Linked DNA regions of Homo sapiens: regions 1 and 2 are each linked to region 3. Evidence: fine-mapped expression QTL. A gene starts in region 3. Each other region holds a variant in brackets. All regions are shown on one strand. Distances are from middle to middle. Region 1 overlaps LOC105376289 (a long non-coding RNA gene). Region 2 overlaps MIGA2 (mitoguardin 2). Region 3 holds the start of CRAT (carnitine O-acetyltransferase).

Evidence for each region. PIP is the estimated chance that this variant, and not a neighbour inherited with it, causes the effect.
Region 1: its variant is fine-mapped to the expression of CRAT in whole blood (TOPMed, PIP above 0.99).
Region 2: its variant is fine-mapped to the expression of CRAT in whole blood (INTERVAL, PIP 0.97).

What each region holds. Positions count from the first base shown.
Region 1 is chr9:129,187,040-129,189,881 of GRCh38, forward strand. All of the region lies in intron 1 of LOC105376289 (a long non-coding RNA gene), which reads left to right. Among named protein-coding and RNA genes, the nearest start is that of IER5L, 10 kb to the left of the region's middle. The variant G/T (reference allele first, on the strand shown) is at 1,436.
Region 2 is chr9:129,067,759-129,070,600 of GRCh38, forward strand. It overlaps MIGA2 (mitoguardin 2), which reads left to right. Exons shown (of 16, transcript NM_001329990.2): 12 at 15-113; 13 at 440-574; 14 at 1,318-1,371; 15 at 2,091-2,207; 16 at 2,489-2,842. The coding sequence ends at 2,695. Among named protein-coding and RNA genes, the nearest start is that of DOLPP1, 12 kb to the right of the region's middle. RefSeq lists an enhancer at 1,999-2,138. The variant C/T (reference allele first, on the strand shown) is at 1,653.
Region 3 is chr9:129,109,327-129,111,826 of GRCh38, forward strand. CRAT (carnitine O-acetyltransferase) reads right to left here and starts at 1,467. Exons shown (of 14, transcript NM_000755.5): 1 at 1,157-1,467. The coding sequence starts at 1,183. It overlaps PTPA (protein phosphatase 2 phosphatase activator), which reads left to right and starts at 2,089. Exons shown (of 10, transcript NM_178000.3): 1 at 2,089-2,305. The coding sequence starts at 2,275. RefSeq lists silencers at 1,223-1,662, 2,353-2,402 and enhancers at 2,073-2,352, 2,285-2,500.

The sequences.
Region 1 (2,842 bases), 78 kb after region 3:
CTGAAGGCTGAAGTGGGAGAATCTTTTGAGGGCAGGAGTTCAAGACCAGCCTGGGCAACATAGTAAGACCCCTGTCTGTAAAACAAAAACAAACTTCCTGCATCTTTGAGGCTTGATCCAATGAAAGTCTCCTTCTTTCTCTTTTTGAAGGATGTTATATGGGGAAGCCCTAATTGGCATCCCTCCCTTCCATTGGCCAGAGCTGGGTCATGTGTCATCAGCTAGCTGCAAGGGAGCCTGGGAAATTTAGTCCTCAGGTGTGCTCCAGGACTGGCAGCCCTATTTCTCCACATCCAAATGACCTGGTTCAGTGAATACACAGCGTTGCCACTGACACAGGGCCTTGAACAATGAAAAAGTGGATCTTTGACTGGTTCATTGATCACAAAAATAAGCTATGATGCTCTCAGCTGGTGGTAGGGGTGAGGGCATAGTGGGCACCTCTCATCACACAGCTACTAAGAAAATGTTTATTTTTTAACCTGTCTGTCCATCTCCCCCATTAGACTGTAAATTCCCTGAGGACAGGTCCATAAGTCTCTGCTTGGCAGCTTCCTTAGTCCTTGACAAATAATAGATGCCCAATTAGTATTTTCTCAATGAACAAACATTGCCTTCTTGAAAGGATTTTGGTGAACAACTGTTTAGCTTCTCATGCATCAGATGTGTACAAAAATATATTTTCACATCACAGCAGTCTAGCATGAAGCCCTTTTTTTTTTGAGACAGGGTCTTGCTCTGTTGCCCAGGCTGGAGTGCAGTGGTGTGATCGTGGTTCACTGCAACCTCCGACTCCCGGGCTCAAGAGATTCTCCCGCCTCAGTCTCCTGAGTAGCTCGGAATAAAGGTGCACGCCAGCATGCCTGGCTAATTGTTGTATTTTTTTTTTTTTTGGTAGAGATGGGGTTTTGCCATGTTGCCCAGGCTGGTCTCAAACCCCTGGGCTCAAATGATCTGCCTCCTTAGCCTCCCAAAGTGCTGGGATTACAGGCATGAGCCACCATGCCTGGCTGAAGGCCCTCTTTTAAAAAAAGTTTTAATCAGTCTTGTCCTTCTGCTAAGGTTGAGCACTGCTGTTTAATCAACAAGCATCATTCTTTTATTTTTCTTGAGACAGAGTCTTGCTCTGTCGCTCAGGCTAAAATGCAGTGGTGCGATCTCGGCACACTGCAACCTCTGCCTCCCAAGCTCAAGTGATTCTCCTGCCTCAGCCTCCCAGGTAGCTGGGATTACAGGCGCCCAACAACATGCCGGCTAATTTTTGTATTTTCAGTAGAGACAGGGTTTCACCATATTGGCCAGGCTGGTCTTGAAGTCCTGACCTCAGGCGATCCACCCGCCTCGGCCTCTCGAAGTGTTGGGATTACAGGCTTGAGCCACTGCACCCGGCCCCATTCACTGTTGATTCATTCACTGATTCTTTGATGACTAGAGG[G/T]ATGGATCGATTCACTCCTTCAGCGGACATTTGTTGAGTATCTACTATGTCTGATGCCCTTTCCAAGACAGAAGAGAAGGGGAAGGGACAGTGGCTTGCAATATACCCACAGAGACGGGGTTTTCTAATTGTCTAATGAAATCGATAATATTTAATTCTATGAAACCACAGCTTGATGGTCTCACCGTAATATCATACACTGAATTTAATCTATTCTAAGTCACCACCTTCCTCCCATATCTAACATCTCTAAAATTGAGAAGTGTCTTACCATTGATAACACCTTCGATTTGGCAAAGTCAGGCCATTATACTCATTGGACTAGTTAACGTTTATCTATCTATCTATCTATCTATCTATCTATCTATCTATCTATCATCTATCTATCTATCTATCTACCTATCTGATGGAGTCTTGCTCTTGTTGCCCAGGCTGGAGTGCAGTGGCGTGATCTTAGCTCACTGCAACCTCTGCCTCCCGGATTCAAGTGATTCTCCTGCCTCAGCCTCCCGAGTAGCTGGGATTACAGGCGTGTGCCACCACACCCCGCTAATTTTTGTATTTTTAGTAGAAACGAGGTTTCACCATGTTGGTCAGGCTGGTCTGGAACTCCTGACCTCAAGTGATCCTCCTGTCTTGGCCTCCCAGAGTGCTGGGATTACAGGCGTGAGCCACCACGCTCGGCCTGTTCATTTACTTTTTTATAGCCTAAGTGAACACTGAGATAATGAACATTTACAAGGCAGGCATGACATACAGCATGCCCCATCATCTCACACTTAGTGACTAGTTAGTTCTGTCCCTGTGTTGGTTAGGGCGGCCTATTAGGGTCACGGAGAGGGGAAGGGAACCATTGTTTCTTTCGAACTGAGTATATATTTGGCAGTGTGCTTGTTCATGACACAAGATTTTTAAAAACACCCCACCAAGCGCTTGTATCATCTCCATTTTACGGGGGATTTTAAGAGACCAGGGCTTTGCTGGAATCCCTCATTGGAAGAGCTGCGGTTCCAACCAGTGCTGCCCTATTCCGGAGCCCATACTCTGAATCACCCTCCACTGCTGCGTGCAGATGCCCACGCTGGGATGCAGTCGCCAGCCCCATTTCGAAAGAGGGAACTGAGGTCCACAGAGCTCACCTGCTCTTCTTAGACTCACAACGTCAGAAAGTCATAGGGCTGGGGTGTGAACCCCAGTCTCTTATTTCCCAGAACCCAAATGCTAATGGCTCTACTCTCCTGCATCTGGCTTCCCCAGGGCCTTAAAAATGAGGCTGGACTGACAGGGGGAGGGTCCTGAGACCAAGCCTGGAAAGGGAGTCTCTTTGAGCCCTTCTGTCTTTAAGATTCGGGATGAGGATGCCCGGGGCATGCCCGCCATGCCCACTAGGTTAGTTTTGGGCCAGAG
Region 2 (2,842 bases), 41 kb before region 3:
GCTTCTCTCCACAGAGCCCCAAAGGCTTCCTGGAGAGCTACGAGGAGATGCTGAGCTATGCCCTGCGGCCCGAGACCTGGGCCACAACACGGCTGGAGCTGGAGGGCCGAGGGGTGAGTTGCTTTGTGCTGAACCCCGACATCCCGGGCTCCCCTGCATCTGAGCAGCAAGGGGGTTCTTGTGCCGAGCTCTAGCTCAGTTCCAAGCGGCTGAGACGGTTCCATCACTGCTCATAGTCCCCGGTTCCTGCCCTGCCCCAGGCCAAGGCAGAGGGAGGAATGGCCTCAGCTACACCCGTTGCACAGCAGAGCGGGAAAGACGTGTCCCCCCCACGTGTGCTCATGCCCTGGACCCCAGCTTCAGTCTCCCCATCTGGAAAGTGGCCCCGAGGCTCCGGCAGTGCCCCCATGCATGAGCCTCCCGGGGGCACCCTCTGTAGGTGGTATGCATGAGCTTCTTCGACATCGTGCTGGACTTCATCCTCATGGACGCCTTCGAGGACCTGGAGAACCCTCCGGCCTCGGTGCTCGCCGTCCTGCGGAACCGCTGGCTGTCAGACAGCTTCAAGGAGACGGTGGGTCACTGCCCTGCTCTCAGACCCACACTTGCTCACATCAGCCCGTGTGGTTGCCTGGCTCCGTCCCCTCTGTCCCTAGCACTGGCACCAGGGCTGGGCCCCCACCCCCTAGATCCGCGGCTGCCAGGCCTGGGAGACCAGAGTCTGCCCTGGAGAAGCCTCCAGGGTGCCCCGTTGCTGCCTGGTGCCCCAGTTTAGAACCAACATGGTGTGCGCTTTCTTCCTATTGTGTGGTTTTACTTTTGTGCTGGTATGAATTCGATTCCATTTTAATGCATCCTGTTAAATCAAGTTAAAAGAGGGGAAAGCAAAACCAAAAGGAAAAAAAGGCACAGAGTGAGAGACAACCCAGCACAGGACCCCCAGGAAGGCAAGCAGTAACGCTCCAGCAGCCGGGCTGTGCTGCCTGGGCCCAGGCTTCTGCGAGGTGGTTTACAGGCGGGAACCATTGCTCCCACAACCACCAAAGGAGGTGGGAGTGCTGTGTTGTGCCCCTTTACAGAAGAGGAGACCGAGGCTCAGAGAAGATCCAGCAGTAAGATTAGAGTCAAGATTCAAGTTTAGGTATGTCTGAGTCCAAAATCAGAGGAGGAAGCAGCAGAGCTTAGGCACCTGGCCCCATCTTCCTGCTTGGAGTGGGGTGAGCTGGGTTTAAGGGCTTGGTGCTGGGCTGGCAGAGGGCGAGGGGCTGTGGGCTAGGCCCATTTTGACACCCGGGGGACATCCTATTTTTGATGTAGGCCTTGGCCACTGCTTGCTGGTCGGTCCTGAAAGCCAAGAGGAGGCTGCTGATGGTGAGTGACTGGCAGGCCCGGGGGAGCACGAGCTGGGCTCTGAGGCAGCGTGGTGGGGAGCGGAGCGGGTGCAGGGTGGCTCGCTGGGCCACTTGGCCTTCACCGCTCACAGTCCTGGCCCCCTTGTTCCGCCGTTACCTCTCCCTGTGCCAGGAGCTCCCTGGAGGCTCGTGTAGACCCACTTCCTCTCCTCCCCAGGCCCAGCACAGAGCAGGCCACTGGGGAGGGGAACGGATACCCTAGGGTAGTGGCCACAGGGCTGGCAGCTGGCCTGGTGCAGG[C/T]GTCTCGGTGGGGGCAGGATACCCAGGAGCAAGCAGAGCCCTGTCCCTCCTGCCCTTTCCCCGCCCCAGTCAGGCCCCTGTAATCTCCGCTCCCAGGCAGCGACTGGCTGTGCTATCTGGCCTGTGGTTTGTCGTTCCCCTCTGCGGGCCAGGCTCTGTTGCCTAGCTGATACCAGCTGCCGTGGCCACGTGCTCCAGGCACTTCCCGCGGAGCCACTATGGCCCCACCTCTTGCAGTACTCACAGCGGCCCATGGTTACCCTGTCTGCAGAAGTTAAAATGGGCTTCGAAAGCTTGAGTCACTGCCCAGGGTCATCTAGCAGGAAAGTACATGAGCTGGGGCGACCTCTAAAGCCCAGCCCTTTATGCGACACCTGGGCCTGGTGCCCTCATCCTACCTGGGCCCCGCCTGGCCCCTCAGCCTTGTGCCCACCGCAGGTGCCTGATGGCTTCATCTCCCATTTCTACTCCGTATCGGAGCATGTGAGCCCTGTCCTAGCCTTCGGCTTCCTTGGACCCAAGCCTCAGCTTGCTGAAGTCTGTGCTTTCTTCAAGGTAAACAGAGAGCAGTTCTCGTTCTTTCCTGACCCTTGCCCTGAGCACAGGCGCCCTGGGAGGTGCCAGGAATGGGATGAGGGCCTGGGCCTGGGCCTGCTCCCAGAGAGAGGGCAGAGCCAGACCCACATGGGTCCAGAGGAAGCAGTGGGAGGGAGGAGCCTGGGGATGGAAAGGACCGGCTGGGGCTCTGGTGGTGGACAAGGGGACTTCAGGTAACCTGGGGGGCATCATGGTGGGCAGTGGCTGGGCCAGGCCTGACACCAGCCCTGCTCCCCCAGCACCAGATTGTGCAGTACCTGAGGGACATGTTCGACCTGGACAATGTGCGCTACACGTCACTGCCCGCGCTGGCAGACGACATCCTGCAGCTGTCCCGGCGCCGCAGCGAGATATTGCTGGGGTACCTGGGGGTGCCCGCGGCCAGCAGCGCAGGCGTGAATGGGGCGCTGCCCCGAGAGAATGGGCCCCTGGGGGAGCTGCAGTAGAGGCGGCACGGGCTGGGGGGTGGCAGAGAGAAGGCTCCTCCTCCCTTCCCTGGGTTGGTATCTGACAGCTGTGGTGGCTGAGGGCCGTTGCCCCTGACTTTGCCCCACCCCCATCATCTGGGAGTCCCCAAGGCCCAGAGGGGACAT
Region 3 (2,500 bases):
GTGGATGGGACAGCCAGAAGCCCTGCCTATTTCCTGTTTCTCTCCAGGACTCCTGGGACCCATCTGAGCCATCCCTCTACGAACACTCATTTTTTCCTGAGCTGTGGCTCATTCAGCTAGGGTCCAAGAGCGGAGGACTTTTGGTATGAAAAATAAACCAAAGGACACTGGGATTGGGCTGGATTTGAATGAGCAGGTCCAGGGGACTCTGGGCAAGTCCCTCCTTGCCTCAGTTTCCCTGCAGGAAGGTAACCAGTCCAGTCGGATGGTCCTGGAGGATGATCTAGAGGCTGTTTGTGGGATGGATGCAGCTTGGGAGACAGTGACAAGGGTGCGGTGGAGGCTCAGGGTGTTGCAACACCTAAAAGAGCCTCTAGGCCTGAGCCTGGATGCACCCTCCGCCCTCTGGCCCCGTAGTGTGTGTCTGAGACAGAGTGAGACACCAGCAACATATGCTTGGATCAGGGACGGAAGGGACTGAAATTAGGCTAGCATCCGGGCTGCTCACCGGGGAGGACTGAGGGGTAGATATAGCCAGGGTGGGGAAGGGGGCTAGAGGGGAGGATATAGCCAGGGTGGGGAAGGGGGCTGGAGGGAAGGATACAGCCAGGGTGGGGAAGGGGGCTGGAGGGGAGGGAGACCATGGGGCTGCCACCTGCCAGTTCTGAGGCCTTTCTAGCTTGATGCCTCCGCGTGTTTCTCTGGCCACACACAATTCCCCAGGGACCGTCTGATAAACCAAAGGAGTGTGACCAACTGGACAGGGTCGGAGGAGTGGCTCTGGCCTAAGCGTGCGACGGGTGTGTCAATCGGAGAATAACTGGGAGAGTGAGCTAGGGTCTGGATGCTCCTGGTCTCTCTCCCCTACCGGCCTGTCTCTGGGTCTAAGGGTGGGGGTGCTAACTGAAGCCGGGGTCCCCCTTGTCTTTCCTGGGTCGTTGGAACTGAATGCTCCAGGACGTGGGTTTAATCCCGCTTCTGACCTTGCGCCCCAATCTCCTGCTCTGCCAAACCTGGGACGCCCGCCTGACCCCACCCCATCAGCTGGAGGCCGGGTCGAACAGCGGCCGCAGGACGCGGTCTCCGTTCCCGGACGCAACCGCACGGCCCGCCCAGGCCGTCCAGGGCCCTCAGGCCCGGGATCCGCCGCACTCACCACGGTCCTGGCAGCGAAGGCTAACATCTTCGCTGCCCGTCCGCGGACACGCAGTCCGCTCCGCCCCACACACCGGGCAAAGTCCGCGCCGCCGCCGCCGCGGCTGGGGTCGGTGGGTCCTTGCTAGAGCCTTCGGGCCAAGGTCGCTGAGTTACAGCCGCCAGCCGGTAGAGGCAGCCCCGCGCCCACCCTCTGGGCCGAGCGGGCTGCGGGAAGGCACCCGGGGAGGAGGACTCGCGAGGCGGGGCCTGGGCCGGTAGCGGGCCCCGGGCGGGCAACGGTGCCCGGGAGGTTGGCTGTGGGGCGGGGACGGGGCATCGATGGGGCGGAGTCTCCTTGAGGAGGGACAGGAGGGGCGGGGACGGAGGGGCGGGGCGTCGCCCGGTAGCGGGTCGCAGTAGGCTGGCTGCGAGTCGGGGGCGGGACCACGGCGGGCGGGGACAGAGGGGCAGGGCCGAGGGCGAGTCATTGAGACCTGTGGAGGAGGAAGGAGGAGGTCACCGTCCAGCTGTCTCTCCCCTGTCCCCACATGTCTTCTAAGCTGTTGGAGGTAGTGGTGTGCACCTTTCCAACTCCGTCTGGTGTCCTTGAGCCTAACTCTTAGAGTGATAGGAAAACACAACCATGTTGACCGGGGAATGTCCTCTAATATTCCTTGGGTTAGGGTCAGTACCACCCACAAAGATGACAGGTGGTACTCCGGGACAGGAGACTGTCCCGGAAAAACATGGCTGAGCACAACCCAAACTTGACGCCCCGCACAATCGTGGCAGTCGCGGCGCCCGACGTTCGGGCGGCCGTGAGCGGTCCTAGCGCTTGGCGGCCGTTGGCGCGCATGCGCCCCGCGCGCCCCGCACTGACATGGCCGTCGCCCGGTTCCGCGCGTCCGCCGCGCGCCGGCCGTTAATAGGCTTGCTCCCTGAGCGCCCCGCACCGACATGGCGGCCGTCTTCGCTGTGGTGACTTTAACTCTCGGTTTTCGGTTATAGCCGGCCGGCGCTCACTTGTCTTCAGGAAGCTCGGAGCCTTTGGTGGAGCCGGGGAGAGGAAGGGTGGGTGCAAGAGTGAAAGGCGAGAGGGGACTGCAAGCATCCGGGTCGGCTCCTGGCCGGAGCAAGATGGCTGAGGGCGAGCGGCAGCCGCCGCCAGGTAAGGCCGGCGGGGCCAGGCCGGGCCGGGGTCGGGTAGGGTGGGGGCGGTGCCAGGTGTGGGAGGCTCAGGAGGGCGAGAGTCATGACACGGAGGAACTGGAGGGGCAAAAGCTGAGGGGCCCCGAGGAGGGACTGAGTTGAATGGCCTTAGGGGAGAGGTGGGTGGTGGGGCGCCGCTGGGGAGGGAACCAGG